6 separate regions of the Homo sapiens genome follow, and all the other regions are linked to region 4. Evidence: fine-mapped expression QTL. A gene starts in region 4. Each other region holds a variant in brackets. All regions are shown on one strand. Distances are from middle to middle.

Region 1 (5,108 bases), 130 kb after region 4:
AATTATTACCATCTTTTTCTGTCTTCTGCGATGGTATATAAGTTGTATTAATGCAGAGCTAACAGTGTCATACTGTCTAACACATACTAGATTATTGGTAAATTTTGACTGACTGCAGTGCAGAAAGAACATCATTTTACAGAATCTATTTGGTATAGAAATGGAAGGCCTTATTTCTGGGTGAAGACTATGTTTAAATTGAGACTTTTAATGCCGAGTGGCAAATCTTTGTCTTGGTATTTCTGTACTCATTAAAAAATTAGAGTAGGCCAGGTGTGGTGGCTCACACACTTTGGGAGGCCAAGGCAGGCAGATCACTTGAGGCCAGAAATTTGAGACCAGCCTGATCAACATGGTGAAACCCTGTCTCTACTAAAAATACAAAAATTAGCCAGGCATGGTGGCATATGCCTGTAATCCCAGCTACTTGAGAGGCTGAGACACCAGAATCACTTGAATCCGGGAGGCAGAGGTTGCAGTGAGCTGAGATCGCACCACTGCACTCCAGCCTGAGCGATAGAGCGAGACTCTGTCTCAAAAACAAAACAAAACAAAACAAATTAGATTTGACTGGGAAGATAGCTTATGTATATATATATAATGTGACTGCAGATTGAGAGTTTATTTTGTAATTGGAATTTGATTTCTAGTTCAGTGTCACTACAGATGAGTACATTTTAGTTGGGACATCCGGGATGCTTGTGAGAGTTTTTTCAGATTTCTCTGAAAAAAATCTGAAAGACGTAACAGTGCATATTGATAGGCTTACTGTATAAACAGTGGTTTCATGAGAGATAAAACTTTGACTCTTTAAATTAATTCTTCAATAACTGGAGGTTTTGAGGTAGAATTGCCATTATGGTTAAAAAAACTTTATGTGAAAATTTCAAATATATAAAAGTAGAGAAAATAGTTTAATAAATCTCCATTAACTTATCTCACTGGTCTTCAAAAGTTACCAACTCATGACCCATCTTGTTTCAGAGGTACTCCTACTCATTCTGCCTACTCCTTGGTATATAACTTTATGTATTTTATAGTTAAAAGATAAATTCTTTTTAAAAACCCATCACCACACACAAAAACCTATAACCACAGTAACATTGTCAATTATATAGAAAATTAATAACTCCTTAATATCATCAGATATTTAGTATGTGGTCAGATTTCCCTAATAGATGTCTCAGCTTATACTTTGAATAAGAATCCAAATAAGATCTATATATTGCAGTTGGTTGACATGGTCACTTAAGTCTCTCTTAATTCTGTAGGTTTCCCTTCTATGTCGGTCTTTTGTCTTGCTATTTAAAGAATAGGGGTTATTTTCCTGTAGTTTTCCATAGACTAGATTATTATTTGCATCTTGTATTTCATTAGCAGTTGTAAAATAGTATTATCAAATTCTTTTCTTTGTATATTAGGTAGAATTCTTCCCTCATCAACTACTTCATTCTATACTAGTTCATTTTGTGTAAGAAAGGCGGGATAGATACTTGATTCTTTCCCCTTACTTGCTAGTTTTCAAAAATAAAAGGTTAGTTCCTTAACATCTTCCACTGGTGACCTGTAGGGGTGTGCGTGTGTGTGTGTGTGTGTGTGTGTGTGTGTGTGTGTGTGTGTGTGTCTGTCTCTGTGTGTGTGTGAGAGAGAGAATGTTTCTTTATGAACTCATATTTAAACATCCTGAAACCCAATCCATTGCATTTAACCATTTTGCTCAAATTATTTCATTTTTAGCTAGTGAGTCTCTTCAAATTGACTCCCAATTATTTCTGACTTACCCTCAGTAGTCTTTTATATGTTTCTTACATTCCAGTTTAATATGATGTTTCAGAATCAAATTGTACATTTTCTTTTCTAGACCTGGAATTGGTTATATTTTCTTTCAGGTGCCCCATCTTCTTTTGAAGTGGGAATTAGTCTTTAGGGACCACAGTCTAGGGGCTTAGAATGCTCATTGCTGCTGGGTTGATACTGTAACTTTTTTGCAGCGTTTATTTTTATCTTATGAAGAGTTTGATTATATTGTTACTCTTCACCTCTGTTGTGTGTGTGTGTGTGTGTGTGTGTGTGTGTGTGTGTGTGCATGCGCGCGCGCGCGCATGTTTTTTAGAGACAAGGTCTTGCTCTGTCACTCAGGCTGGAGTGCAGTAGCATAAGCTCACTGCAGCCTTGAACTCCTGAGCTCAAGGGATCCTTCCACATCAGCCTCCCAAGTGGCTAGGACTACAGGTGTGCACAACCACCTAATTTTTTTTTTTTTTCAGTAGAGACAGTCTTGCTATGTTGCCCAGGCTGGCGTTGAACTCTGGGGCTCAAGCTGTCTTCCTGTCCTGGCCTCCCAAATTGCTAGGATTATAAGAGTGAGCCACTGCACATGGCTTCTGTATTTTTTTTTTTTTGAGCTATAAGTCATATCACATAAAATCCACCCTTTTAAAGTATACAATTCAGTGGTTTTTAGTATAGTCATAAAGCTGTAGAACCATTACCATTACCTAATTCCAAACATTTCATCACCCTGCAAAGGTACCTTGTACCCATTAGCAGTCACTCCCTATTCTTCCCTCAACCTGGCTCCTGGCAACCACTAATCTACTTTCTGTCTCTGTGGATTTACCTTTTCTGGACATCTCATACAAATGGAATCACACAATATATGGCCTTTTGTGCCCCAGGTTCTCTCATTTAGCATAATGTTTTCATCTATGTGTGTCATGTATCAGTATTTTATTCCATTTTATTGCTGGATAACTCCATTATATATA[C/CTGTG]TGTGTGTGTGTGTGTGTGTGTGTGTGTGTATTTTTTGTTTGTTTATCCATTCACATTTTGTTTGTCCATTCATTGATTGATGCATATTTGGGTTGTTTGCACTTTTGGCCATCATGAATAATGCTGTTACGAAAATTTGTGTAGAAGTTTTTATGTGGACATACCTTGTCAGTTCTCTTAGGTATATACCCAGGAGTGGAACTGATGGGACATATGATGACTCTAAACTTTTTTGGGAACTGCCACACTTTTCCTCAGAGGTTGTACCACTTTACATTCCTGCCGGCAGTGTATGGGGGTTTCACCTTCACATTCCATCTACATCTGACATTAGTATCTTCCTCACTGGAGTTATATTTTGTTATTTAATAGTTTTGCAAAATGCATTAAATTCACTTCCATTTAAATTGTTTAAGATACAGCAGTTTGAATGTGTCAATGATGCTATCTTTAGAAATTTTATTCTAAAACACAAATATCTTTTGTGTAATATTAGGACAGTTTTTTAAAAGTAATTCAGTATGTTTCTTTTTTGAAAAGGTTCTTTATAACAGTATCCCGTTCTTTTAATAAGTTCATACCCTCAAATTTTCTCTGCCTTTGCCCTTCTCCTTTTTAATTCCAATAAGTGCCTTTTTGCACATCTTTACCTTCCTATCTAAAGTAGCATTTCTGTTACACCATCACCAAACTCTGCTTAATTTTCTTTGCAGCAGTTGCCTACTGCTTAACATTAGTTATCTGTTTCTTTGTTTCTAATGAGAAAGACCAACAATAAAATCAAGTTCCATGAATTTCTGTTCACAGTGGTGTCCCCAAAGTCTACAACAGTGCATGGAGTGTAGAAAATATTGAATAAATATTTATTGAAAAGAATGAATAAATGAGATAATTTTACATTAGTTTCAGTTCTTGAGCTAGGCCAAATCACAAAAGTTTGGCTTGGTTTGAAGAGTGGTTAAGAATGATGACTCCAACTTGGTCTGTTACTGAACCATAAGGTTCTTCCTCATCCTTCCAGCCTCTAAAAAATGGTGCACCCAAAACCCCTGTCCTTAGTCATCTTAGCCTCTCCATTTATACTTGCTCCTGCATTTGGCTTTAATGCCATTCACACACTGATGTCTCCCACATTTATGTTTATATCTCTAGGCTCCATCTTCTTGATCTCTAGTCTGGTTTAACTAGCACTTTACTTGGCATCTTTGTTTGGATATGTGATAGGTTTTCAAACATAATGTGTCTAAAATGGAAACTTTAATTTCTTGTTCCTTGTCCGTTGAGCTGTCTCTGCATGGCACGAGAAGAATAGATTTTTCTTACAATGCTCTTCATCAATAAATAGAAAATCCTTGCTTCCGGTTGCTGACACAAAAAGCTTGACTTCTCTTTTTCTATCCTATTTAATTAATCCACTCAAATCCTATGGGCAGTATTTTCAAAGTATATCCAGAATCAGTAACATCCCACCACTTCTATCTCTACTACCTTTTCATTGCTATATTGTCTCTTGCTGGGGTTAATGACGCTTTCTAATTGGTCTTCTTTTGCCCCTTACCCCCAGTAGCCTTGACTGTTCTCTACCCAACAGCCAAAATGATTCTTTTTTTTGTTTTTTTGGTTTTTTTTTGAGACTGAGTCTCACACTGTCACCTGGGCTGGATGTGCAATGGCGTGATCTCGGCTCACTGCAACCTCTGCCTCCCAGGTTCACGTTATTCTCCTGTCTTAGCCTCCCGAGTAGCTGGGACTACAGGCACACACCCCCATGCCCTGCTAATTTTTTGTATTTTTAGTAGAGATGGGGTTTCACTATGTTGGCCAGGCTGGTCTCGAACTCCTGACCTCGTGATCTGCCTGCCTTGGCCTCCCAGAATGCTGGGATTACAGGCGTGAGCCACCACACCCGGCCAAAATGATTCTTTAGAGTAAGTCATCTCCTACCATTCCTCTGCTCAAAATGCCTCAACACAATCTGGGCCTTGCTACTGCTTTTATGTTCTCTTGTTCCCTTGCTTACATTGCCCTTAAAAGAGTTTTATGCTGCACATTGAAGCCCAGACTCCCTGAAATATCCTGTGTTACAGAAGCTTAGCAAACTAGAAATGTTGGTTTTGCATGAGACTGTTCAAAGAAAAGAGCAACTTACTTACTCTTTGTATAAGCCTATTTTTGGGTTTCTAGTTGGATATTCTTTCCCCCTTTTTTGTTCTTATAAAACCAGGTAAAGGTATTAGTACAGATTGTAAGTTTTTAGAAGAGCATAGAATATTTGGGTAATAAGGCAAATTTATTTTTCCTATTTTGCTCGTAAGTCAGTTTGGTTTCCTCAGATGGGG
Region 2 (5,092 bases), 49 kb before region 4:
AGAAGGCACTTAGAAAATACCTGTGTAGAAGCAGCAGTGGGGATGGTGGGATGCAGTGACCCAGCAGGCATTTCTAGCCCCACTTCGCTTCTAACACTTCTGCAGCTGCAAATTTTTTTTTTCCTTTTAAGAGACAAGGTCTCTGGCTGGGTGCGGTGGCTCACGCTTATAATCCCAGCACTTTGGGAGGCTGAGGTGGGTGGATCACGAGGTCAGGAGTTTGAGACTAGCCTGGCCAACATGGTGAAACCCTGTCTCTACTAAAAATACGAAAATTAGCCGGGCACGGTGGTGCACACCTGTAGTCCCAGCTACTCGGGAGGCTGAGGCAGGAGCATCACTGGAACCCGGGAGGCGGAGGTTGCAGTGAGCCGAGATCGTGCCAGTGCACTCCAGCCTGGGTGACAGAGCAAGACTCCGTCTCAAAAAAAAAAAGAGACAAGGTCTCACTCGTTGCCCAGGCTGGAGTGCAGTGGCATGATTATAGCTCACTGCAGCCTCCAACTCCTGGGTGCACCCTCCAACTCCCGGGCTCAAGTGATCCTCCAGCCTCAGCCTCCTGCGTAGCTGGGACTACAGGTGTGCACCACCATACCCACCTTATTTATTATTTTCTGGAGGGATCGGGTCTTGCTATGTTGCACAGGCTGGAGCAGCTGCCAATGTTAATTAAACCTTGGGATCTCCTCAGAGGATTTAACTGGCACCAGGTGGAAAGATTTCATCTGGTCCAACAGGATCACTGTACAGATGGGAAAACTGAGGCCCTGAGAGATGAGGCAGTAGGCGTAGGAACACCATTCTGGATGGCCCCTGAGCTGTTTTCAAAGCACCTCTGAAAGAGTGCTTTCAAGATCTGAAATGAGAAAGTAGTAGATCCTCAAGGGAGATGAAGTTTGACCTGGCACTACATTCTGAAAAATTTGAAAAACTGACTCCTTCTCAAATACTTTAAACCAGGATTTTCACATGAGGCCTGAACACCAGTCCAGGTGGGTGGGAGGTATAGATGACTAAGAGAATGTGAGAGGGGCCGTGTGAACAGGAACAGGTAAGACCAGTAAATCCTGGGAACTCCCAACTCACCTTGCCTTGCTCCAGGGACAAGCACTGGACCTGAGGAGTTTAGGGAGGTCCCTGGCAAATGCCTCCAGGAGGAAACAGAGTCTTCCTGCTGCCTGTCAGGACGGCTGACCCTGGGCCTGATCTCAGCTAATTCAGCAGCTCAGGGGGAGGACACCACCCCCGTATCTGCTCTGCATCTCAAATACACCAAGAGGGCTGGCCAGGCAGAGGGATTGCTATTGATTTTCACTTGTGCGGGCTGACCTAACAAAACCAATCCATCAAGTGCCTGTCTGCCTCTGCTTCAGACTCTCATCCTAAGCACGTGCAAATAAATTGCACCAGCATCCAGGGTGATTTGTCAAGGTCCAGCCAGGCATGGGCCCTGGCTTCCACTGATAGGATGGGGCTCCAGGCTAGGCTGGGCTAGGGTCAGCCCAGTCAATGCCCCGCTGTTGACTCGCCATTGAGTGACAACACGCAGTGTGGCCTGGCATCTGCTGCCACGCTAGGAACTGGTTGGCCATGCCTGGGAAGGGGCTTTGAGGAAACAGGCCCAAGTCCCACTCACTTTGACAGGGCTTGGCAGCGACATTCTCACTTGTTTCTTAAGGTTTCTGTCCGAACTCTAGATTTGGGGGGATTTATTACAATGTAGATACAACCATGAGGTGCTGAGTTTGGGTACTGCCTCTGCCACTGGCTGAATGTCCTTGGGCCAGTTGTGAGATGGAGATGACACCACCTACAGGGGTCTAGAACCCTGTAAAGGCCAGGGTCCAATCCCTGTTCTGCCACTTCCTAGCTGTGGCCGGGGCAGGTGCCTTCAGCCCTCGGTGCCTCATTTTCCTTATCTGTACTACCGGGCTGAAAATGGTACCTACCTCTTACAGTGGAGCTGTCATAACTGAATGAGAAAATGCAAAGGACCACAGGGGCTCACCCCACCCAGCCCTTCATTCCACTAGCAAGGACTGGAGGCTCAGAGAAGGGGGTGATGTTCTGGGGTCACACAGCAAGGCAGAGCAGCATCAGAGGGGTTACAGGAGCCACAAGCAGGAGAGGATGACGGAGAGAGTACAGTGACCATCCTGCCTTCCTGTCCTCCAGCTGGCAGCTGTCCCTGAAGAATGAGACACAGGGAATGTGGGTCATGGACATACACAGATC[G/A]TTTGAAAGGGTCAAAAATTTTATTAGCAGGACTTTTTGTGTTTTTGAATATACAGGTTTCCTGCTGTCCAGGGTAAAGGGGAAGTGGTGTCTTGTGGCCCGAGGTTTGGGGCGCTTGCCTTGGGACTCCATCCCCATCTCTTTCCCGCTAGCGCAGCTGGGGGAAGGTGCCTGCTTGCCGGCCCCACGGATTCTTCGGCTGTGGCATAAGGCACTGTGTGTTCTGCAGGAAGGCGCTCATGGCTGGCTGGTAGATGAGAGGCGGCCTTCTCAGGGGCTGCAAAGCTGAGGCTGTTGAGGGGTTGAGTTGAACTTGGGGCCCCTAGTGAGGAGGCCCCAGGCGATGGGAGCACGGCCTGGTGAGTCTGGTGCCGCTGCCTCCCCACTGGCCCTGCACCAGGTCTCAGGATGGGATCATGCCTTTGCTCCTCTTGCGGTCGGCCATGGTTCTCCGGTTGTGGTTGGCTCTTGTCGCCTTGTTGGCTTCCTTCTTCCTGCGTTCCTGGGTTGTCTCGCGGCTCTGCCCATGGCCTCGGGGGCTGCCGGCCACTGCTGTTGAGCTGTCATGCCGGTACCTGAGGGAGGAACAACCCACCCCACGAGAACCTGTCAGCCGGAAGAGGCTCTGGCGGGAGAGCCCACAGCCTGCCTTGGTGTTCACTGGGAGAGGACACAGACTGGGCCTGGTCACTCATGTCCCAACTTCAGATGGAAGGAGAGATGGAGCCCAGCAGGGGCAGGGCCCTGGGGCTCTGACCAGCCCCGAGCCTGGTGTTTTCTCTTCTCTGGGCCTTGCTTCCAGGTCCGCCCATTGCTACGTGTAGCGGAGGAACAGCTAGAGAGCTGACACAGCCTACAGGAGACGGGGAGGGCTTCAGGTGGGTCTCCTCCTTTCTCCCTCTGGGGCCACATGCTGTAGCTGAGACATTACTCCTGTTCTCTACCCTAGGGCTTTGCCTGGCAGCCTCCAAAGACCAAGTGCACTCACAGATGTGACCTAGGGCCCTTTCAGACCATCTTGACCACTGGGATTTGCCAGAGCTCCGCACTCAGGGGGCTGGGATGGATGAGAAGTCAGGGTTGCTCTGCTCCCTGCTCAACAACCTTCTGTGGCTCCCCACTGCCTTCAGAATGAAATCCAAATGCCTTCCCTGTGGCCAGGCCTCCTGAACCCAGCAGACAGTGCTGCATGAAGCCTAGGGCCGGGATGCGGGAGTGGGCTTCTACTCCTGGCTTGGCCTTAGGTGGAGGCAGATCCTTGGCCCCTCTCAATGTTTCCTCACTGGGAAGATGCGGGGCCTGGATGAGGAGTCTCTGGGTACTGATCTCAGCTCCCCTCGAAGATCCCTCTCCTGACCACGCCTGCTTTCTTACTTTTCTGCCCTCATATGACAAACTCCTCTGAGCCCTTTTCACCCTTAGGGGCCCAACTCAAGTGCCCGTCACTTCCATACCTCTATCAGCCAGAAAGGATGTGTCTGTGTCTGTCTGAGCTCTCTCACATTTACACTCTGCCTGATATCAGCTAGCCCTGGACACGCTGGGTGATAAATCCCCTCCTGTGTTCACCAAGTAATGGTTATGAGTGGGGACCCTGGAGCTGAGCCATCTGGGCTCCATCTTTGCTACATCACCTACTAGCTGTGTGACTTCTGGCTGGTTACTTAACGTCTCTGGGCCTGAGTTTTTTCATCTGTCAAATAAGGATAGTGATAATGGTAGCTACTTCACTGGGTTGTCGTGAGAACTAAATACACGTGGAGCACTTAGGGTGTACGTGTGGGTTTCCTGGGTGGCTGGCTAGGCCCTCCCCAGATGGTGGGAGGGGTCCCCCCAGAAGCAGCCCCTTGAATGCTCACCCTTTCTTGGCGAGAAAGGCCATGCGCCTGGCTTCTGCCTTCTCTCTCAGCACTGCAGGGTCCTGAACAAAATGGTCGGGCTGTGGAAAGGAGAGGAGACCAAATCTGGAGTCAGGAGCTGCCACATTTTCCTAAGCGGCGATGAGGCCCTGCTCAAGTGAAGCTTGTCGATGCCTCCATGCCAGGTGTGGGGGGAAGCTGCAGCCTGGCAGAGCGACGCCCAGGAATGGAGTGGGATTACTGTGGTCTGAGGTTTCCATTAGGAGCCCCCTGCCCCACCTCTTCCCTGAGCGGGTGGCAGCTGAAGGGACTGAGGCTTCCTGGACAGGCTGGTAGAGTGGATAGACCATAGTTATGGCATAACAATGACAAATGGGAGTGGTGGGGAAGCCAGGATGGCCACTGTGAGAGGCTGTGCAGGGCCCTGAAGACTGCGGGAGCCACCGTGGGAGCTAAGTGGTCCCGGGAGCTGCAGGCCTAGGCCTCACTGTGGCACCACTAGCAGCATGTGTGGGAGTGCCCACTCTCAAGGACAGCCTTCTCTGCCAATAGTGCAAGGAAAAACTGGGACCTAGGGACCACAGACAGGCTTTGGTGGCCAGTAGCTTTAAAAAGGAAAAAAAAAGGCCAGACACTGTAGTTTACATCTGTAATCCCAGCACTTTGGGAGGTCAAGGTGGGAGGATCACTTGAGTCCAGGAGTTTGAGACCAGCCTGGACAACACTGTGAGATCCCATCTCTACAAAAACACATAAAAACTAGCCAGGCGTGGTGGTGTGAGCCCATAATCCCAGCTACTAGGGAAGCTGAGGTGGGAGGATTGCTTGGGCCCAGGAGTTTGAGGCTGTAGTAAGCCATGACTGCACCACTGCACCCCAGCCTAGGCGACAAAGCGAGACTCTGTCTCTAAAAAGAAGAAGAAGAAGAAGGCTGGGTGTGGTGGCTCATGCCTGTAATCCCAGCACTTTGGGAGGCCGAGGCAGGTGGATCACCTGAG
Region 3 (5,000 bases), 32 kb before region 4:
AGAGTCCTGGCCTTGGTGGCCAATCAAGACAGCCACAGATTCGGCCAGTCCTGGAAAAGCCTGGAGAGAAGGCACCAGATCCGAGGTTTCTACACTTGTTCAGTGGAATCCTGGAGCCCCACGGAGGGGCTTCCAAGAAGGCCAAACCATGGGACTTGGCACTGTTCCCAGTTGCAACCAAAGGAGCTCCACTTTTATCTATTTAGAGGAGAGCTCCGGGAAGGGCTCATGGAAACGTTCATGGAAAGTTTCGTCTCTTCATTTTATAGAGGGGAAGCTAAGGCTTCGATAGTTGAAGCAACTTGCTCTCTCCTCACACACAGTCCAGCATGCCCCCAGCTTGGGACCCTCTAAAGGCAGCACAGAGCTGACCAGTTGCTTGAGGCTGTCTATTCCCCAAAAAAACTTTTTCCCTGAGTATAAAAGCAAAGAAGGGAGGTTTCCTGCTGCCCCAGCCTCTCAGATAGGGCCAAGGAGGGACAAGCGAAGAGGGAAAAGCGCCACTCAGACACATACCTCCTCTTCCTCCGAGTTCTCCGGATGTGATGATGCTTGACTGACTGCCTCTGCTGTCACCGTGACCCCGTTAGGCTCCCCATTAGGCTCCTCAATCACCGATGGGTCTTTAGCATCTGTGGCTTTCCGTCTGTCCACCCCTTCCCATGCACTCTCGACTGCCTGGAGGATGTAGGCAGTCCGCGTCTCGTCCCTGTGAGGACTTGTTAAGGGGTCTGTCTTAAGCTCCTAGCTCTGAAGCAGCATAATTTCTCAGTCCCTCCCCAGCATCTGACCACATGGTTCCTGCCAGGGGCTTTCTGGGCTATATCTAAGTGGTATAGCCCACGGGCACCTGGGCTGCATGGAAAAATGGGCCAGACTACAGCCACTCTGGCCTCACAACCTAGTGCCTTTCACTCAGCAGAAAGCAGCTCTGAGTAAAGACAGGGCCAGGGCTGCCATCAGAGTGTCCTGGGGCACAGGTATGGACGAGCCAGCAGCTCCTCTTTTGTACTGACTGCCAGGAGGAGGGCGTGGTAGGGCCACTGCCACTGGGCTTCCTGTCCAACCAGCTGAGGGCATTCTGCAAAGGCTGTGGGCCATCAGGTTTCCCTGAAGCAGGACTGAGCAATCTACTGCAACCACCAAAAATGACCCATAAGCTGGCTGCTCCTCCCTGTCCTTCCTCCTTGTTAACAACCCTGGGCACTGTCAAGCCAGAAATCTGAGAGTCCCCTTAGACTCCCTCACTGCTTCTTGTCCAAACCCTCATCATCCATGCTTGGATGCCAGCAACAGCCTCCTCACTGGCCCGAGCCTCACGGTGGTCCTGGGCCAGTCCATTCTCTTCCCTGGGCCAGACAGAGCTTTTCCAAAGTATAGAACTGCCCATGTCACTTCCTGCTTCACAACCTTCCGCGCTCCCCAGCGCTTGCAGGACAGAGCCCAAACTTCTTAGTGATGGTCACCCCAGGGCTGTGCACGTTGCTGGCCTTCACCTCACCTGCAACACCCCAATTCCTCCTCTTGGGAGACCCCTCCTTAAGGACTGCCCCCTGTACTCTATACACGTCTGTGGCTCTAAGGAGCCTGTTTTCTCTGTCCTCTGTCCACTGCGAACATTCTTGTCCTTGTCCTTGCTCCTGGCTTGGTGCTCTCCCATTCTTTCTGCTGTTCTTCTGCTTGGACATCATTTCCATCTGAGACCCCCACCCAGAGCTCTGCTGGGTGAGGCGCCACCTCTGGTTTCCTGCCCTCTGAAATCTTCCCACGTGACACTCTATCTAACTGCCTGTTTACTTGTCCACCTCCCCTCCTGCTGTGAGGAGGGGCTGAGTCCATCTTGGTCACATAGGCCCAGATACTCAGGAAACACAGACGGAAAATAGCACTGCATCTCCCCTGCCCCAAGCATCAGAGCAGCCATCTCCTCTAGAAAAGGCAAGGCTGGGACCTTGGCAGGCCACCTCGGACAGCTGGCTGACCCATGCGTTCTGGGGCTAAACCTCTTTCCACTCCTCTGGGTTCCAGCAGCCTGTCTCACCTCTGACCTAGTCAAGCTGGGCCCTGTCGTAGTGGGCTATGGTAGAAGGATACAAGACTGATGAGGCCTGCTGCAGCAAGCTGATGTCTTCGGCCACGGGGAAGAGTGCATCATAGTCCCGGAGGAACCTGCAGGCAGATGAGAGCAGATGGGATGGACAGAGCTGGGGCCACAGGAATGCTGTGCTGCTGCAGGCCACTCCCTGTGTTTGCAGCCCGACCTTATTAGAGCTGTGGTGGGCCTATAGCGGGGGTCTATCATGTAAGGCCTCTTGGGGACCTGTGGGAGGGTCATGGGCCCAGGCCAGCTCAGCCACACTCACCTCTTCTCCTGCAGCAAGGAGCTGAAGATCTGAAGGAACTCTTCGATGAAGCCCTGAATGTTGTCACAGCTAGAACAAGACACCAGGGAAGATGAGCTCATGCAATGCAAGATGAGCTGCAGCTCCTTTACACACCCGCTGCCCCTCTTTAAGGCTGGGGCCCAGTGGAGGAATGAGGCATTTTTCTTGGTTTCTCATCTCTGTTCAGCCAACCCCAGTGCAGTGGAGGAAGCCAAGATGAAATAATGGAAACGCTCCTGAAGGGCTTGGGGAGGAGACTCTTCCACCAGGAGGCAATTC[G/C]TGAGGGCTTACCTGCTTTCTAGGATGGGAAGGAGGCAGATCTGGTTCAGGATGATGTGGAAAATCTCCATTAGCTTCTTCCTGGAATGGGAGAGCCTCTGCCACAGGTCACCAAGAAGCCTAGGCCAGAGAGAAAAAAGACACAGGTTTAGGAGACAAAAAGGCCCTGAGGGGCCAGGTGCAGTGGTTTACACCTGAAACCCTAGCATCTTGGGAATCTGAGGTGGGAGGATCACTTGAGCCCCAGGAGTTTGAGACCAGCCTGAGCAACTAAGTGAAATCCTGTCTCTACAAAAAATACAAAAAATTAGTCAAGTGTGGTGATGCAGGCCTGTAGTTCCAGCTCCTGGGGAGGCTAAGGCAGGGGGATCGCATTCGCCTGGGAGGTCAAGGCTGCAGTGAGCCATGATGGTGCCATTCCAGCCTGGGTGACAGAGCAAGACCCTGTCTCAAAAAAAAAAAAAAAAAAAAAAAAAGGGAAAAGAAAAAGAAAAAGAAAAAAAGGCACAAAGGGAGCTTCTCCCCAGCAGTTGCAGGTGCCTCCCTGGAGCAGAGAAGGCCTCACAATTCACTGCTGAGAGCAGCTGGCAAAAGCCATAGGCCCAGAGAAGATAGCTGCTTCCAGGGCTGCTTCTCAGTTCAAACGGTGGGTCAGGAACCAGCAGGCTGAGTACCAAGAGCATGGAGTAACAGCTGAGGGAAGGGCTTCAATGCAGGGCCCAGCCATCATGGTATTTTGGGGGATTGGGTTAATAGACATAATTGCCTTAGTACAAGCAGGACTTTGGGTCAAGTCTCCTTCACGGTGTTTAGTAACACTTAACTCTAGTTGTTGCAGTCTTTCTTATTAGGTCTTCATACAAGTCTACAGAGAACATATATTTTTTTTAATATGCTAAGAGTTTAAAAAAAAATGCAGTTCAAGACCAGCCTGGCCAACACGTCAAAACCCCATCTCTACAAAAAATACAAAAATTAGCCAGGTGTGGTGGCACACGCCTATAATCCCAGCTACTCGGGAGACTGAAGTGGGAGGATTGATTGATGTCAGGAGGTCAAGGCTGCAGTGAGCTGTGACTGCACCACTACACTCCAGCCTGGGTGACAGAGCAAGACCCTGTCTCAAACAACAACAACAACAACAAAAAAAAAAACAAATGCAGAGGTCAGGAAGTGGCTAGATAGGGATGCAGAAGCTCAAAGCTGCACAGTCCCTGGTCCCACCCACTTGTCTTAGAGATAGGGATGCTAATGCCCAGGGAAGGCAGGGCCCTGCTCGGGCCTCTCTGTCCCACAACAACATTCTTAATTTTGTCCCCGCCTCACTTGCTATCTTCAAGCCTCCTCTTCTTAATTGCAGACTCCATTTCGGGAATTGCTGCTTCGTAGAAGGAAGCTAGTCTGTGCAGGCACACACAGGGAAAATGTTGGATTAGTTCATAAATACCACACTTCATAAGAACATCAAAGCAAACCCCAGGGAGTGGGAAGGCCCATTTCTTTTTCCACACAATTTTCTCCAGGGACCCCTTGGTTCTTCCCTGAGCTCACCCCAGACTGACCCACTAGGGCTGGTCCCAGGAACAGCTCATAAGAAGTGACCTATAGCCATGTCCCTCATTCAGATGGGCAACTGAGGCCCAGATAGGCTCATACTAACAGAGGAATCAGAAGGCCACTCGGAACCCACTGAAGTTTGAGAAGCAGATCCAAGATTACTTGCTTGTAATTTTCTTGCTCAAAAACTGTCAGTTAGCCAGGCACAGTGGCTCATGCCTGTAATCCCAGCACTTTGTGGGGCTGAGGCAGGAAGATTGCTTGAGCCAGGAGCTCAAGATCAGCCTGGGAAACAGGCTGGTGAAACTCCATCTCTACAAAAAATACAAAAATTAGCCAGGCATGGTGGTCCACACCTGTAGCCCCAGCTACTTGGGAGGCTGAGGCAGTAGGCCAGGAGGTCAAGGCTATAGTGAGCCATGATCACACCACTACATTCCAGCCTGAGTGACAGTGAGACCCTATCTCAAAAAAAAAAAAAAAAAAAATTGTTCTGGCTGGGTGCGGTGGCTCACGCCTGTAATCCTAGCACTCTGGGAGACCGAGATGGGTGGATTACTTAGAGGTCAGGAGTTTGAGACCAGCCTGGCCAACATGGTGAAGCCCCGTCTCTACTAAAAATACAAAAATTAGCCAGAAGTGGTGGTGCACGCCTGTAATCTCAGCTACTCAGGAGGCTGAGGCAGGAGAATTGCTTGAACCTGGGAGGTGGAGGTTGCAGTGAGCCAAGATCGCCCCCCACTGAACTCCAGCCTGGGCAACAGAGTGAGACTCTGTCTC
Region 4 (5,103 bases):
AAGCTGTAACAGGAAATGTCCAAAACTACAGTATAGTAGAGAAAGGAAGGATATTACAAAGAAGGTGATCTATAACCTGGATGTTGAAGGATGGGGGAAAAGGTGACATTCCAAGCAGAGAGCAAGCATGAACAAAGGCTCAGAGTCTTAAAATGTGTGGCTTTGGGTCGGGTGAGGTGGCTTCCGCCTGCAATCAGCACTTTGGGAAGCCACGGAAGGAGAATTGCTTGAGCCCAGGAGATTGAGGTTGCAATGAGCCATGATACGTCACTGAACTCCAGCCTAGGGGACACAGTGAGACCCTGTCTAAAAAGTGTGGCTTTGAAGGAAGAGGGAGACATTTGGTGTTACTGAAAACACAGGTCAGATAGGGGATGACAGAAGTGAAGAGAGAAGAGAAGCTGGATAGGGAAGACAGGACCAGTTTAAAAAGAGCCTCAAAATAGCTTGAACCCGGGAGGCGAAGGTTGCAGTGAGCCGAGATCACGCCATTGCACTCCAGCCTGGGCGACAGAGCGAGACTCCATCTCAAAAAAAAAAAAAAAAAAAAAAAGCCTCAATGCTACACTAAAGATTTTAGTATTTCACCTGAAGGCAGTGAGGAGTCATTTAAGTATGAGACAGACATGACCAGAAAGAGATGATGATAACCTGGTGGCAGAAAAGACCTTTAATAAACCACGAGAGAGCAAACAGTACGTTAATCATTTCATTCATTCCTTTTTTTTTGAGATGGAGTCTCACTCTGTCACCCAGGCTAGAGTGCAGAGGAACGATCTCGGCTCACTGCCACCTCTGTCTCCCGGGTTCAAGAGATTCTCCTGCCTCAGCCTCCCGAGTAGCTGGGAATACAGGCATACGCCTGGCTAATTTTTGTATTTTTAGTAGAGAGAGGGTTTTGCCATGCTGGCCAGGCTGGTCTGGAACTCCTGACCTCAGGTGATCCGCCCGCCTTGGCTTCCCAAAATGCTGGGATTACAGGCATGAGTCACTGCCCGGCCATTCAAATATTTTTGAACACCTATTATGTGGCAGGCACTGATGCCCAGAGAATATTAAGGTGGGCAAATAACAAACCTGCTCCTGCCCTTCACAGAGCTTACAGTCATAATGGGGAAAGACAGATACTTTTCCAATTAGCCATACAAACAAATAAAAACCAATACCATGATGTAGCTATGTAGATAAGGCTCATGAAGCTGTGGCAGCATTTAAAAGAGAGACCTGGCTTGAGGAAGAAGTGATGTCAAGGAAGACCTGAGTTTTTGTCTAAAGCACGGGTACAAATTAAGTAGGCAGGGCTGGGCGCGATGGCTCACGCCTGTAATCCCAGCGCTTTGGGAGGCCAAGGCGGGCGGATCACGAGGCCAGGAGATCGAGACCATCCTGGCTAGCAAGGTGAAACCCCGTCTCTACCGAAAAAAAAAAAAAAAATTAGCAGGGCGTGGTGGTGCATGCCTGTAATCCTAGCTACTCAGGAGGCTGAGGCAGGAGAATCGCTTGAACCCGGGAGGCGGAGGTTGCAGTGGGACGAGATCACGCCACTGCACTCCAGCCTGGGCGACAGAGCAAGACCCCGTCTTGGGGGGAAAAAATAAATTAACTGGACAATCTGAACTTTGAGCTCCAAAAGGACAAACAATAATCATGACTATGTCTGTGCCCACCACTGTATTCCCCTGCCAGGCAGGACAGCAAAAGCCAAAAGCTAAGAAAGGGAGGGGGAGCTCCCTACAAGCACCCAATTGCAATATGGCCTGGGAGCATCCCCGGGGCTACTGCTCCCTCAGCCTCTTTGTCATCATTCCTCTAGTCTCTCAATTAAATACTACTCTCCTCAGAGACCTTCTGATGGCTCTGCCTATAGTATCCACTCTCCCAGTTACTGTCATAGCTTTAATGACCTTGTGCATTTGCTTGTCGTTGACCATCTCCTCCCACTAGACTGTAAGCTCCATGAGGGCAGAAGCCTTGTCTGTCTTGCTTTCTTTGTATCCCCAATGTCTAGATCTGTGTCTGGCACATAGGAAGCACTCCACAAATATTTGCTGAACGAATGAATGAACCCTGAGGAAACTGAAGCCCCGGGTGTGAGGACGTGGGGGGATCGTGGCTGGTCCAACGCCACTCTGGGGCCGAACTTCGAACCCGTGGCTCCTGACCCTGGCGGCCAAGTCTCGAGAGGCGGCTCACAACCCCTCAGGTAGCGTAAGCGTGGGCCCCGCAATGGAGGCCAGAGGATGGGAGAGCCAAGGCTGCCCAAGGCATAGCCGCGGCTCCTCCGGGGTCCCTTGCCCTGCATCTGGCAGGGACCAGCCACGCACTCACCTCGGCGGCTCCACCACCGGCTCTGTGCCGCCGCCGCCGCCGCCGCCGCCGACCACGGTGACAGCTCCCTGAGCGCCCGCACTTCCGGGGTCAAACTGCGATTCCGCAGGAGCAGACAGGAAGTCTCGGCCTGGCCCCGCCCCCAGAGCCGAGCAAACTACCGCCGGGAAGCCGGACCCGGGTTGCGCCTCTCTTCTTAAGACTCCGCCCCACACTCGGCGTCTGTAGCCACGCCCCCTTCCCCTCCTATCTCCCTTCCTGCTTAAGCAGAGAATAGGTCAGCTGAGGGCGGGCTGTGTGATTACACCTCTCGGGAAATCCAAGTATGGCACCTGAGAGGACGTCTCGGAATCCCAGGCTTCCACCTTCTGCCCGACCTCCTTAGTCACCGTTTTACATATTTAATCCAGAAGAGAAATTTTAACAAGTCAAAAGCACGAACATAATGTTAAGCAGATGTACAAGTACAGACTGCGATTTCATTTACGGGAAATTCTAGAACAGACAGAACTCATGAGTAGTGATGGTGTTAAAATTGGTGGTTTCCTCTGGGGCTGTGGGCTGGGAGGGGCCACAAGTGAGGCTGGGGTCACCCCCTGTCTTCATCTCGGTGGTAGCCATGTAGATGTGTTCACTTTGGAAAATTCATCAAATTGTACGCTTAAGATTTGTGCATTTTTCTGTATGTATGCAATACAGTTTTGTTCTGTTTTGTTTAAGGAAGTTACAAGTATAGCTATCCTAAGAGAAGGATGCAATTTTTTCTACAGAATGTCTCAGGTAATGTAGGTTTAGTGGTTCCTAAGCCTGACTATGGATCAGAATCATCACAGAAAACTTGTTAAGAACACACATTCCTGGCTTCATCTCAGTGCCTGGTACACAGTAAGAATTCAAAACCAACCACCATCATTATTGGGGTGTTATAGAAGCCCCCGAATGGAGAACACAACCCCACCCTGGGATTGTGAAATATTTCCCAGGACACTCCTGCCAACCCCTGCTATCTGCACTAGGGCTACAAGGAATGCTTAGTTCAGTGCCTGTCTTCAAGGGGCTTACAGGATAGGAAGTGCAAGAAAACCAATAGCAATGAGTCAGTGTGATGAATGCAGGGTGCTAAGGAAATAGGAGAGATGGGCTGTAAACCAGAAATGAGATGAGAGGGGCTGGATATTATATTAGTTTTGTATTGCTGCATAACATATTACCACAAACTTATAACAACACACTGCTTGCCACTTATAACAAACACATTTATTTATTTATTTATTTTGAGACAGAGTCTCACTCTGTCACCAGGCTGGAGTGCAGTGGTGTGATCTTGGCTCACTGTAACCTCTGCCTCCCGGAGGTTACAGTGGGTTCAAGCGATTCTCCTGCCTCAGCCTCCCAAGTAGGCAGGACTACAGGCATGAGCCACCAGGCCCAGCTAATTTTTGTATTTTTAGTAGAGACGGAGTTTCACCATGTTGGCCAGGATGGTCTCGATCTCTTGACGTCGTGATCCGCCTGCCTCAGCCTTCCAAAGTGCTGGGGTTACAGGCGTGAGCCACCACACCTGGCCAACAAACATATTTATTATCTCACATTTTCTGTGGGCCAGGAATCTGAGGATGGCATAGCTGGCTCCTCTGCATCAGGGTCACCCACAAGACTGCAATCAAGATATCGGCCAGGGCTGGAGTCTCATTTAAAGGCTCAACTCAAAAAGGATCTGCTTCCCATGTCTAGTGGCTAAATTCAGTTCCTTAATGGTTGTTGGACTAAGGGTCTCAGTTCCTAGCTGGATTTTGGCTAAAGGCTTGTCACGTAGGCTTCTCCAGTGTAGCAGCCTGCTTCATCAAAGCATGCAAGCCTAAAAGTTAATAGGGAAGCCAAGAGTGGTGGCACATGCTTATGGTTCCAGCAGGTTGGGAGGCTGAAGCAGGAGGATTGTTTGCGCCTAGGAGTTCAAATTGAGCCTGAGCAACATAGCAAGACCCAGTCTCTAAAAATTAAAAATAAATAAATAAATAAAAGAAGGCAATAGGGGCCGGGCACCGTGGCTCATGCCTATAATCCCAACACTTCGGGGGGCTAAGGTGGGAAGATTGCTTGAGCCCAGAAGTCTGAGGCCATCTTAGGCAACATAGCGAGACTTCGTCTCTACAAAAAAAAATTTAAAATTAGCCAGGCATGCTGGTGCATGCCTGTAGTCCCAGCTACTTAGGAGGTCGAGGCAGGAGAATTGCTTGAGCCCAGGAGTTCGAGGCTGCAGTTAGCTGTGATCACACCACTGCACTCCAGCCTGCACAACAGAGCAAGACCCTGTCTCAAACAAACAAAAGGAGGCAATAGGAGATTCTACTAAGAAGAGAGAAATTACAACCTCATGTAACCTAATCAAGAAAGTGACATCAGTTTTGCCATGTTCTATTTGTTAGTAGCAAGTCACAGGATTTGCCCACAGGGGATTACACAAGGGCATGAATACCAAAAGATGTGAATCAATGGAGGCCATTCTAGAGTCTGCCTGCCACAGATACTTGGAGGATGCATATCAACCCCAGGTCTGCAGCAGAGGAAGTAGAGGTGCAGAGAGATAAAGACAGTTGTGATAATAATGACCACATTTGTCAAACCCTTGCTTCATCCCAGGCACTGGAATAAGCATTTTACACATATTATCTCTTTGACTTTTTTTTTTTTTTAAATGAGATGGAGTCTCACTCTGTTACCCAGGCTGGAGTGCAGTGGCACGATCTTGGTTCACTGCAACCTCCGCCTCCCAGG
Region 5 (5,108 bases), 350 kb after region 4:
TGGATAGTGAACCTGTCTTTCCACCTAGGGTTTTTAACAACCAGGAGATAGAAGCAGTGGGTTATGACAGTCTACTCTAAATCTGGCACAGTACCTGTGATCCCTCTGCCTGGGCTCTGGGATAGTTTGGAGGAGGAATGGAGGGTTCCCTTGAGGGACCAGCCCATTCATCATCAGTGGTTCTAGAGAGATCCTGATCCCAGGAACCAGGAGAGCCTGGACCAGTTCTCTGGCCCCTCCTCCAGGCATTTGGGTTACTGTCGAGCAAAAGCGAGCTTCGTCGGAACCTAGTTTATGCTTAACTGAAACTTGGGCATTAGTCAGAAACAACTCAGCCTTCAAAATGAGGCCCACAGGGAAGCTGTTTTTATTAATGAAACTCATTTATGATTATAGTATATAAAGCAATCATTTGCATGCTATGAACTGTTTAAGAGATTATGGTGATGATACAATGTGTAGAGAGGTAGAAAAGTTACAGAGTTTACAAGACGATAAACCACCTTTCAATAACTTACTATTGTTTAGATTTCAAGTGCTTCTTAAAATGGATAAGCTAAATAAACTCTAACATAGTTCTAGCTAAAAGTCATTAGTCTAACAGTTCTGGTGGAAACTGTTAAACCAATTCTGCAACCAAAAAGATAAACAGCTAAAAACTGCCAGGTATCAGTATTATTGTAATATTCCCTTTATCAAAAACCTATAACTGAAATTTATAGGTAAGAGTTTACAGTAAGCAGCAGGTACCTGGAAACTTGTCAGTTAAGGTTTCCCTTTATAGAAGAACCTCTGCTGTAAGCTTTTCAGCCCTCTAAAGCCAGTAAAATTAAAAAAAAAAAAATAAAAAGAGCTTTCACTATTAGTTTCTAAGGAAATTATATAAAGGTCATAATACTAAGAGAAAAGCTTTAAATTGTCATTTCCAATAGGACATAAGCCTCCTAAGAAAAAAACAACCTTGTGTGTTTTTCTTGGGGGGGGAGGCATATATAAATAACAATCAAAAATCTTTTTCTTTCTTGATTTAATTTTAAAGGTGATAGTTAACTAAATCACTTTAAAATGACTTCCTGCTGCTCCCCCAACCTCCTCAAAATTAAGAATACAACAAATATTTGCATAGGTTTATTATTCACATTTAATCATGAATAATTCACTTTGTACAGACAGCTGGGTAAACAAGAGATTTGGAGTTTCCTTTTTCTAGAATATTTTTCCATTGGCTGAAAGGAAACAGCATCAGTGGTGATTTTATATGATTTTCAGTGCCATCTTGTTTTCTCTCCTCTGGATAGGAGACCCCTCCTCCCTCCCTCCTTCTGTCCTTTTTTTTTTTTTTTTCTGTTTACTTATTTCTGCCAGCTTTTGGGCTACACCTCATCAACATAACATTTTTCATTACAAAATGAAAAAATAGCTCAATCATTCAGTTTTTTATTCTGCAAGACAACATAAAGTGTTTGTTTCTCACTTTCCACAATATTAGAGTTTTTTTAAACTGTGGGTTTGCTTTTGTGTGAAGACCCTCTTACTGATGGGAAAATATCTTTCAGAACTAATTCTGCCTCATCATTACCTCCTCCATCTTTTCCTATCAGCCATTAACAATTTCACAATTATTTGACTGTCTGCCACAAAGTTGGTTCTCATTTCCCTCTGCACCTCCCAGGCCTACGTGAGGAAGTGGAGCACGTATCACTGAACATAGGTTTACCCAAGGCTATCAACTCTTGGGCAAGGGGGGCATAATTTACCAAAGGTCAAGGATCCTTTCAGTTCTGTGAACGTCATTAATCAAATTGCGATAGTATAACCTGTGGTTTAGGAGACAATAAGGCTTGCCATAATTCATCTACGACCAAAGAAGGGGTTGGGGGTGGGGGGGTCATCGTATATCTTTGGGAAATCCCTGCATTTTGTCATGGCCTCTGGGAAGTAAGAATTTTCGACACCCACCAAATGTCAAGCATCCACTCTAACTACGTTAGTTGAGGACAAACATTGGCTTTGGGATGTATGTGCCCTCTATTCAGCAACACATATAATAAAATGTGAATGTCGTAGAATGGCAAGTAGCATTCTAGAGAAAATTAACCATACTTTGACTAAATGAAAAATTAATGCTTTCTTCATTTAACACTTAGGGTTTACTGTATGCTAGATGTGTTCTAACCATGTCATACATATTAACTCTTTAATTCCCATAACAACCCTTTGAGATAGGTACAATCCTTATCCCCATTTTACAGATATGGAAACTGAGGCACAGAGAAATTAAGTAATTTGCTTAATGTCACCACAGGAAGTGGTAAAGGTAGGATTTGAACCAGGCAGTCTGACTCCAAAGTCTGTGCTTTTAACCACCATGCTTTGCTATGAGTATAATATCTGCTTATGGCAAAATAAGAAAAGCACAAAGAAGAAAAAAATTACCCATAGTCCCACTCCTTACTTTAGTATATTTCCT[TTGTG/T]TGTGTGTGTGTGTGTGTGTGTGTGTGTGTATTTTTTTCCGTTTTTTTCAATTAACTATGCTTTGTGAATATTCTCTCATAGAAGATACTGATTTGATTGAACATTCAGATCATTTTCTTAGTCTACTGTGTTAAGTACTGGCCCAGCTAAGTTTGGAAGCACTTATGATTGGTGGAATGGAGTGGGGTAGAGGACTGCTGATTTAGCAGATGCATTTTTTCCCCAAGCCAAAGAGCTGCCCTGAAAATGGGCCAAATATAATTTCTTTTAAGCAACCTGAAAAAAGTGTTTCAGCCTAGAGACATACTGTGACTTTTTCCTTCAAAGCATTTCATTTACGTTCACTTTATAAAGTTCAGTTTTCTTAGGGGCAAGGTAGCAGGGGCAGTGGGGGTGGTGTGGGGGAGCCGCTGTGAGTCTTAATGCAAAGAGGAATGTAGGCTAGTCAACAGGAAACCCAAAGTGCTTGATACAGCACAGTGACCTCTAATTGTACCTTGGCATGGCTGCTTTCTCTTTCTTTGATAGGTGTTGCAAAAATATAATAAATATAATAATATATCTTTTTTAAAAAAAACATTTTTCTGGTAAACAAAACTGTTGTTATATGCCAAGACAATAAGCATCTCTGAAGCCAAGACAGTAGTGGTCATTGCTATGGCCAGCTACAGCTTTTGGCCAAGTCACATGCCATCCTGTCAACAGCCAAAGAGGTAAACAGCATAGATATGTGCTGACCTAACCTCAAAAACTCTTGGGAGCACAAGGAAATTGGCTTGAAAAGACTCTCTCTTTTTCCTCCTTGTTAATTGAATTTCTGTCTCTAATTAAAGAGACAAAAACAGAAAACAGTATTCAAAAGGGAAAGTCAAAGAATAATCCCCATCTCTGGAGAAAAAAAAAAATCATTGAATCATCAGAAATATGGCTGCATTGATTCTCACTCTTTCCCTGAGCTGTTTACCCATTTTCAGGTGAGGAAGTGAAGAGGAGGGCCAAGGGCCAACTTTTTCAAAGGGCCCTCTCTGGGAATTACTTTTGTATGTACATAAATTTCCACAATAAGTATCTTCTGAAGTTTTCATGCAACTGAGTTGTTCTTTCAAACTTCTTATCCAATGTTCTAACTTGAATTGTGCTACCAGAAAATCAGGTGTATCTTAATTGCTAAGTCAAAGTTGGCTTCTTTTGGAAACCAAAACTCACTAACTTGAGCCCCTAAACTCACCCCACCTCCTTATTTTTTCCTTTAAAATACCTTTTTCCCCACTTCCTACAGTCACTAGTCTTAGGTCCCCTTGTAACCATTGCAGGCAGCTGCTGTTCGAAATTTTAAAAATGAAATTTGGGCCGGGTGCGGTGGCTCATGCCTGTAATCCCAGCACTTTGGGAGGCCAAAGAGGGCAGATTGCTTGAGCCTAGAAGTTCAAGACCAGCCTGGGCAACATGGTGAAACCCTATCTCTACAAAAAGTACAAAAATTAGCCTGTAGTCACAGCTACTCAGGAGGCTGATGTGGGAGGATCACTTGAGTCCAGGAGGTCAAGGCTTCAGTGAGCTGTGATCATGCCTGAGTGACACAGCAAGAGCCTGCCTCAAAAAAAAAAAAAAAGTTTTTTTCATTAACCCGAAAACTAAGGTCAAATCTCTTTCTGTTTCCAGTGTTTTGAAAACTAGTTCTAATTCTTTCTGTCTGAGTCTTCGCTTCTAGTCTTGGGGGAATGACAAGGCATTGGGACAGGAAACTAATAAGCCCTTCCAACCAACAGCCTATTAGCTGTTGAAGGTTACCACTTCATCCAGATTCCAAAGAGACTCCTTCAAGGAAGGATCTGGGGACCAGTGAGTACCTAGGAGCAGACTAGCAATCTTTCTCCAGAGAAGGCTTTAGTAGGTAGTAACTACAACTCACCCTAATATGTTATATTAGAGCTCACCACTTACAGAGGACTTACAAAGGGTTTCTGATGCGTATAATTGCATTGAAGTTTCACCATTATCTCCTGGGGGTGGGGGATGGGTGGGTAGTGACTATTGTACATAGCCTGTGTTGGCTGCCCCATATCTCACAGTTTATGGAGGACCTGATCTGAGTGCACCTGTACCACGTACATGGCACGTGTACCATGGCCTTGCTCCCTCCTTGCCCTGAGTCTTCCTCCTTCATTCCTTGCCCAGCTCAGCTATAGTGTCTTATATTTCAGTCAAAAGCTGTCTTTCTCCAAGACATACTGATCAGTTAGCTTAAGCTGTGAACGTTTGGTTTTGGTGTCCCCCTACCCAAAGAGGAGTCTTCAGGGCTCCTCTCCTGACACCCTGCTGCCTGCTGTTCCTGTGCTCTCACACCATGCCTCCCATCTCCCAGGACTCCCTGAGGCCACACCCCACCCAGGCCTGCTGTCTTGGAAAACCACTCATGACTTGAGCTTGAACCTTTTCTCCCACAATTAAACTCACTTGCCCTACGTCTCCTCTCTCTAAGTCCTACTAGGGGTCCAATTTGTGCTAAGAGACTACTAGCTGGCAATGGTATACTATTCTAATACCCCAGTCCTCTCAGGACCACTTATTAGCCATGTGGGCTTGGGTGAGCAATTCAGCACCCCCTGAGATTCACCTGTGAAATGGGGATA
Region 6 (5,000 bases), 110 kb before region 4:
GTCATCAGGCCTCGGTCTTCTGCTCCGTACAGTGTGGAGGGCGACCCCCCACCCAGTCTGGTCTGGCCTGGACCTGGAGGGGGGCTCCTTCCCCCTCTGTCTTCCCTGAACCAAAAGAGGTCTGTGCCGCCTGTCAGCCCATTAGTCTGGAGCAAGCTGCCTCACGTGGCTGCCATTAGCAAGTGTTGGCCGGTGTTAAGGATCTAAGGATCCGAGCCTGGGGGAGGAGGCGCAGCGGGATGGAGATGGTGGGGGAGAGGGGGATGAAAGGAATGGGGGCGGGTGGGGAAGCCGTCAGCAGCCGCGGGGGCCGGGGAGATCCAGCATCCTCCCCTGCACGTGGTCCCCACCACACGGGGTCGTTGTGAGCACACCAGGAGAGGCTGTGAGAGCCTGGCGCAATCAGATCCCAAGAGGTCACTGCTGGGGGGCCTTGAGCCCTGCTTTACTGCCCTGCTCAGCCTGCCCAGAGGTCCCAGAATACGGCACCCTTGTGCACCCTCGGGCCATGCTCTCACCAGATCTGCAGGCTCTGGGTTGGGCTCTCAAGGCCATGCTCAGGCTGCAGGGTCGGTGATCCTGGGGGTCTGGAAAGGGGGTCTGTTGGGGACCGGGGTGAAGTCCCAGCCTACTCCATTCTCTCCTCAGAGATCCGAGAGGCCTTCAAGGTGTTTGACCGTGACGGCAATGGCTTCATCTCCAAGCAGGAGCTGGGCACAGCCATGCGCTCACTGGGTTACATGCCCAACGAGGTGGAGCTGGAGGTCATCATCCAGCGGCTGGACATGGATGGTGAGCACCCCCCCGCCTCGGTTTCCCCACCTGGCATCTGGGCCCTGGGGGTGGGGCAGGGGCTGGGGCCTGAGCTGCTGAGGCTGCATCCAAATTGGGTCTCTCGCTCCCCTGACTCCCACCCTCAAAGTCCGTGGCAGGTTGCAGCCCGGTCTGGCCCCATTTCTCAGCCTGGAGAATTGAGGCCAGAGAGGTAGTGACAGTCCCAGCCACATGCAGGGCTCAGAGATGGCTCCTTTCACTCTGTGTTGAGAAGTTTTAAAGTACAGAGAAGTAAAAGGATGCAATAAATACTCCAGTTCCCACCACCTGAGATAAAATGACTACTTGAGTTGTGTTTGCCACCTGGCATTTTATTAAGGAAAAGTTCATAAGGAATAGTGATGCCAAGCCCCCTCTTTATCCCACCCGGGCCCTTCTTCTCCTCTTCTCCATCCAGAGGCCAGGTGACAGCCTTGGCAGGTTGCCCCACTCTGAGCTTCAGTTCCTGTCTATATGGTGGAGGATGGCCCACCCCAGGATGGCCGCAGGGTGCTGGGAGCAACGGAGGGTTCTGGGTGAAATAGGAGGGTCACGGCCCACCTGCTGTCTACCTCCACCTCCCCTTGTAAGGCCTCATCACACTGGGTGGCTTCAGCGTCAGCCCAGAGCCTGGCACTTGGTAGATGCCCCTGACACTGACTCAAGGCTCAGAGAAGGCGGGCACCTGCCTAAGGCCACCCGGTAGGCCCAAGGTGTATCAAGACTCCATCCCAGGACCTCTGGGCCCTGGGCTGCAGGCCTGGGCCCTACCCACTGATTGATTGGACCTGTGCCTCCACCAGGTGATGGTCAAGTGGACTTTGAGGAGTTTGTGACCCTTCTGGGACCCAAACTCTCCACCTCAGGGATCCCAGAGAAGTTCCATGGCACCGACTTTGATACTGTCTTCTGGAAGGTATCCCCTGGCTAGTTGGGACCCAGGGCTGTGCACACTGTGGAGTTCTGTTCTGGAGCCAGTGAATGGCTGGGCCCACACTGTAAAGGGGGGATGACCACTTCAGGCTTGTGTCCACTGGACATTTCACCTCTCAGAGGGCCATGGGCTCCCTGGGGAGGCCGGTGTTGGTCAAGGACTCTCTGGGGGAATGGAGCAAGTGTTTTCCAGCCCCCCAGAATCTAGAGGCCTGTCACCGGGTCTGTATGGCCGTGGGGTGCTGGGTGGGGGCTGCGGTGGCTCTCAGAGCACCGTGTTGTCCCCCTCCGCAAGTGCGACATGCAGAAGCTGACGGTGGATGAGCTGAAGCGGCTGCTCTACGACACCTTCTGCGAGCACCTGTCCATGAAGGACATAGAGAACATCATCATGACGGAGGAGGAGAGCCACCTGGGCACAGCCGAGGAGTGTCCCGTGGATGTGGAGAGTGAGTGGCTGGCCCTGGAACCCCACGGGTGGGCCCAGTGACTTGGCCAGGGGGACGCACGGGGTGGGGAGAGTCTGCAGAGGGGGGCTGGGGGCCTCCTTGCCTGTCCTAAGCCTCTGTCCCATTGGGGCACCCCATGGGATGAGCCCATGTGCCGAAGGGCAGGCGGCTCCTGACTCCATCGCTTTGATGTCCCCTTCTGTCTCCCCGGTGCTCCCGGCGGGCGGCCACAGCCTGCTCCAACCAGCAGATCCGCCAGACTTGCGTGCGCAAGAGTCTCATCTGCGCCTTCGCCATCGCCTTCATCATCAGTGTCATGCTCATTGCGGCCAACCAGGTGCTGCGCAGTGGCATGAAGTAGACGCCACCTGGATGCCCCATCCACCGCATGCGGTGCC[C/T]GTGGCCCGCCCCACACCACCGCCGCCTGCAGACCTCTCCCTTGGCCGGCTCCCTGGGCCGCCATCTGCGTGTACTTCAGGGCCTGGGTATCCAGCGAGCCCTCCCCACCCACCCACGGTCCTCACCTGGAGCTGTGGCCTGGCTGTGGAGGGCCGGGTGGTGGCTCTGAGGATGGTCCCCAGCCCCACCCTGTCCCCACCCTGGCCTGTAAGGAGCACTCACTCTTCCTACCATCCAGGGGCTCCTGGGAAATTAAGGAGGGATTTGCACAGGAACCCCCAGGACCCAGTCGCTGCTGTGGTCCCTTGGGCAGGAGCGGGCACCCTGTGCCTTGAGACAGCAGCCTATCTGGGGCCACACAGCCAACCCAGCCCTGGTCCCTGAGGTCTGCCCAGGGCACAGGGCACAGGCAGGGACAGAAAGCCTTCTCCTGGGGGAGGGTGGGAAGCCAGGGTGTCCTGGGCCTTGCTGCCTGGCATAGCCTGAGGAGGCCCCTGGTCTTCTCCTTGGGCCCCTTCCTCTGACCCTCGTTGGACCCCAACCCAGACCCCCTTTTCTCCATGTACCTGCTGGGCCAGCCCATTTCACAGGTGAGGAACCCGAGGCTCAGGGCCCCGAGACTTGGCCTCAGTTCTTCCTTCCACAGGGATTTTCAGGAAAGGCAGAAGCTCGTGGAGGATGGGCATCTGAGGTGGCCCTGCAGCCCCCCACCTTCTGGCCCTCCCACCAGAGGCCCAGCTACCAAGGCCACATTGTCCACCACCCCAGCCTAGAGCCTAGAACTGTAGTCCAGCTGAGGAAGGAGGCAGAGCTGGGGCCTGAAGGCTCTGAGCAGCCTCCAGCCAGGGGGCTCCTCCAGGGCTGAACTTTGGGAGGGCCCCTGTACTACCTCCTGGGCCAAGAAACTGGCACAGCCCCACACTGTCAGTGCCAAGAGGCTGCGCCAGGCCACTCTCTCAGCCCAGGGCCTGCCCTCCTGTCCTCCCACTTCTCTACGCCCTCAAGGTTGGAGACCCCGCTCCCATGCCCCAGCTGTGCCATCCCAAATACTTGGGCAGCAGCTCAGCATGGGCAGACATGGGGGCTGTGGATTCTTCCAGGGCGGGGATGGCAGATGGAGCCCTTGGGCTCCTTGGGCCTAGAGCCACTTCTTACCAGGCAACGGGCACAGCCACCCTGGCACACCCTCTGCCTGGCCGTGCTGAACCTCTGCTGGTCCCAAGGGAGAAGGGAGTGAGCGTGGGTCACCTGGGGAAAATCTCATCTGATTCCCTCCTTGCCCGACCTCTGCTAGGGGCTGGAGAACAGAGCTCAGAGCACCCAGTGTAGGGAAACACAGCCAGACCACTGTGGTGACAGACTTTCTTTATAAACATTTGGAAGTTTTCTCCCCCATCTTCTTAAGAAGCAGGGGGGCAGGTGGAGGAGAGTGAGGGGAGAGCTGCCCGGTGCAGACCCAGGACGAGGGCTGCACTTGGTGTGGCCGTGTCCTGAGCCTCAGTGAGGCTGGGCAGATGGTCTCGGAGCCTCCATGGGGCGTAGCAGGAACCGGGCTTGGCTTCCTATTGTGACTGATGAGAAAAGTGACCACGTGGGGGTCAGTCGGGGGCAAGGGGCTCAGCCCCACTGGACTCTGGGCTGCAGAGGCCACCCCCCAGGTGGGGGTGCCCGCAGGGATGGAGGCAGCTCCTGAACTGGTGGCCAGCCCACGGGGTACTGGAAGACAGTGGTTCTGATGGGTTCAGCCCTAGAGAGAGAGAGAGAAGCGGGGAGAATAAGAGTGCACTACAGCCCAGGCTTATGCCACCCCCAGCCCACCTGCCTCACCACCCTGGCTGTGGGGAGGGTCAGCTGCCTGCATGACTTTTCTGGAAGGCAGAGCCTCGAAAATAGGCAGACCGTTTGAGCCAGCGACCTCACCTCTAGGAACTGAGCCCAAGGAAATAGCGGGGTTGCAGGCAGACATTGAGCTGCGAGACAATGGGAATAACCTTCGTGTCCACCTGTGGGGGACTGATTCAATACATATGCACGTCCACAGCAGAGAATGCCATGCGGCCTGTGTAAGAATTAAGGCAGATTTATATGCACTGATGAGGAAAGACATACTGTGTGATAGGGAGAAAAAGCAGCTTATAAAATAATGTATATAGCATGATACTATTTTTGTTTAAAAATATATAAAATATATAAATGCATAAAAAAATCCTGGAAGACACAGCAAAATGTTAACAGTGGTCCTATCTGAGTGGTGCCATTATGGGTGACTTTTTTACTCCTTTATATTTCTCAAAAGTTTTACGAGCACACAAGCCTTTGAAATCAGAAAAAAACATTGTCTAAATTTTTTTTTAAAGCCTAATTTCTCATGCTACTCACTGTCCTCCTCCTCAACGTCCACCCCGA

Direction of the effects. Alleles are on the strand shown, and positions count from the first base shown. SD is a standard deviation of normalised expression in the study named. Not every link is listed here.
In carriers of allele T in region 6, the expression in cerebral cortex of the gene that starts at base 2,425 in region 4 tends to be higher than with C alone (small effect, 0.33 SD a copy in GTEx).

The links. PIP is the estimated chance that this variant, and not a neighbour inherited with it, causes the effect.
Region 1: its variant is fine-mapped to the expression of ASCC2 in whole blood (INTERVAL, PIP above 0.99).
Region 2: its variant is fine-mapped to the expression of ASCC2 in whole blood (TOPMed, PIP above 0.99).
Region 3: its variant is fine-mapped to the expression of ASCC2 in whole blood (INTERVAL, PIP 0.99).
Region 5: its variant is fine-mapped to the expression of ASCC2 in whole blood (INTERVAL, PIP above 0.99).
Region 6: its variant is fine-mapped to the expression of ASCC2 in cerebral cortex (GTEx, PIP 0.92).

The regions. Positions count from the first base shown.
Region 1 is chr22:29,965,149-29,970,256 of GRCh38, forward strand. The region is part of intron 2 of MTMR3 (myotubularin related protein 3); the gene reads left to right. Among named protein-coding and RNA genes, the nearest start is that of MIR6818, 39 kb to the right of the region's middle. The variant C/CTGTG (reference allele first, on the strand shown) is at 2,769.
Region 2 is chr22:29,786,375-29,791,466 of GRCh38, forward strand. It overlaps ASCC2 (activating signal cointegrator 1 complex subunit 2), which reads right to left. Exons shown (of 20, transcript NM_032204.5): 19 at 4,095-4,174; 20 at 2,237-2,810. The coding sequence ends at 2,639. Among named protein-coding and RNA genes, the nearest start is that of UQCR10, 22 kb to the left of the region's middle. The variant G/A (reference allele first, on the strand shown) is at 2,236.
Region 3 is chr22:29,804,122-29,809,121 of GRCh38, forward strand. It overlaps ASCC2 (activating signal cointegrator 1 complex subunit 2), which reads right to left. Exons shown (of 20, transcript NM_032204.5): 9 at 3,990-4,064; 10 at 2,676-2,783; 11 at 2,364-2,432; 12 at 2,095-2,169; 13 at 517-709. Among named protein-coding and RNA genes, the nearest start is that of ASCC2, 32 kb to the right of the region's middle. The variant G/C (reference allele first, on the strand shown) is at 2,664.
Region 4 is chr22:29,835,850-29,840,952 of GRCh38, forward strand. ASCC2 (activating signal cointegrator 1 complex subunit 2) reads right to left here and starts at 2,425. Exons shown (of 20, transcript NM_032204.5): 1 at 2,329-2,425. RefSeq lists an enhancer at 2,698-2,757.
Region 5 is chr22:30,185,031-30,190,138 of GRCh38, forward strand. All of the region lies in intron 2 of LOC105372988 (a long non-coding RNA gene), which reads right to left. It also overlaps a transcript of HORMAD2 not described here. Among named protein-coding and RNA genes, the nearest start is that of LIF-AS1, 52 kb to the right of the region's middle. The variant TTGTG/T (reference allele first, on the strand shown) is at 2,471.
Region 6 is chr22:29,727,014-29,732,013 of GRCh38, forward strand. CABP7 (calcium binding protein 7) reads left to right here. Exons shown (of 5, transcript NM_182527.3): 2 at 649-792; 3 at 1,617-1,729; 4 at 2,042-2,195; 5 at 2,429-4,820. The coding sequence ends at 2,556. It overlaps ZMAT5 (zinc finger matrin-type 5), which reads right to left. Exons shown (of 6, transcript NM_001003692.2): 6 at 3,943-4,341. The coding sequence ends at 4,212. Among named protein-coding and RNA genes, the nearest start is that of CABP7, 9.5 kb to the left of the region's middle. The variant C/T (reference allele first, on the strand shown) is at 2,594.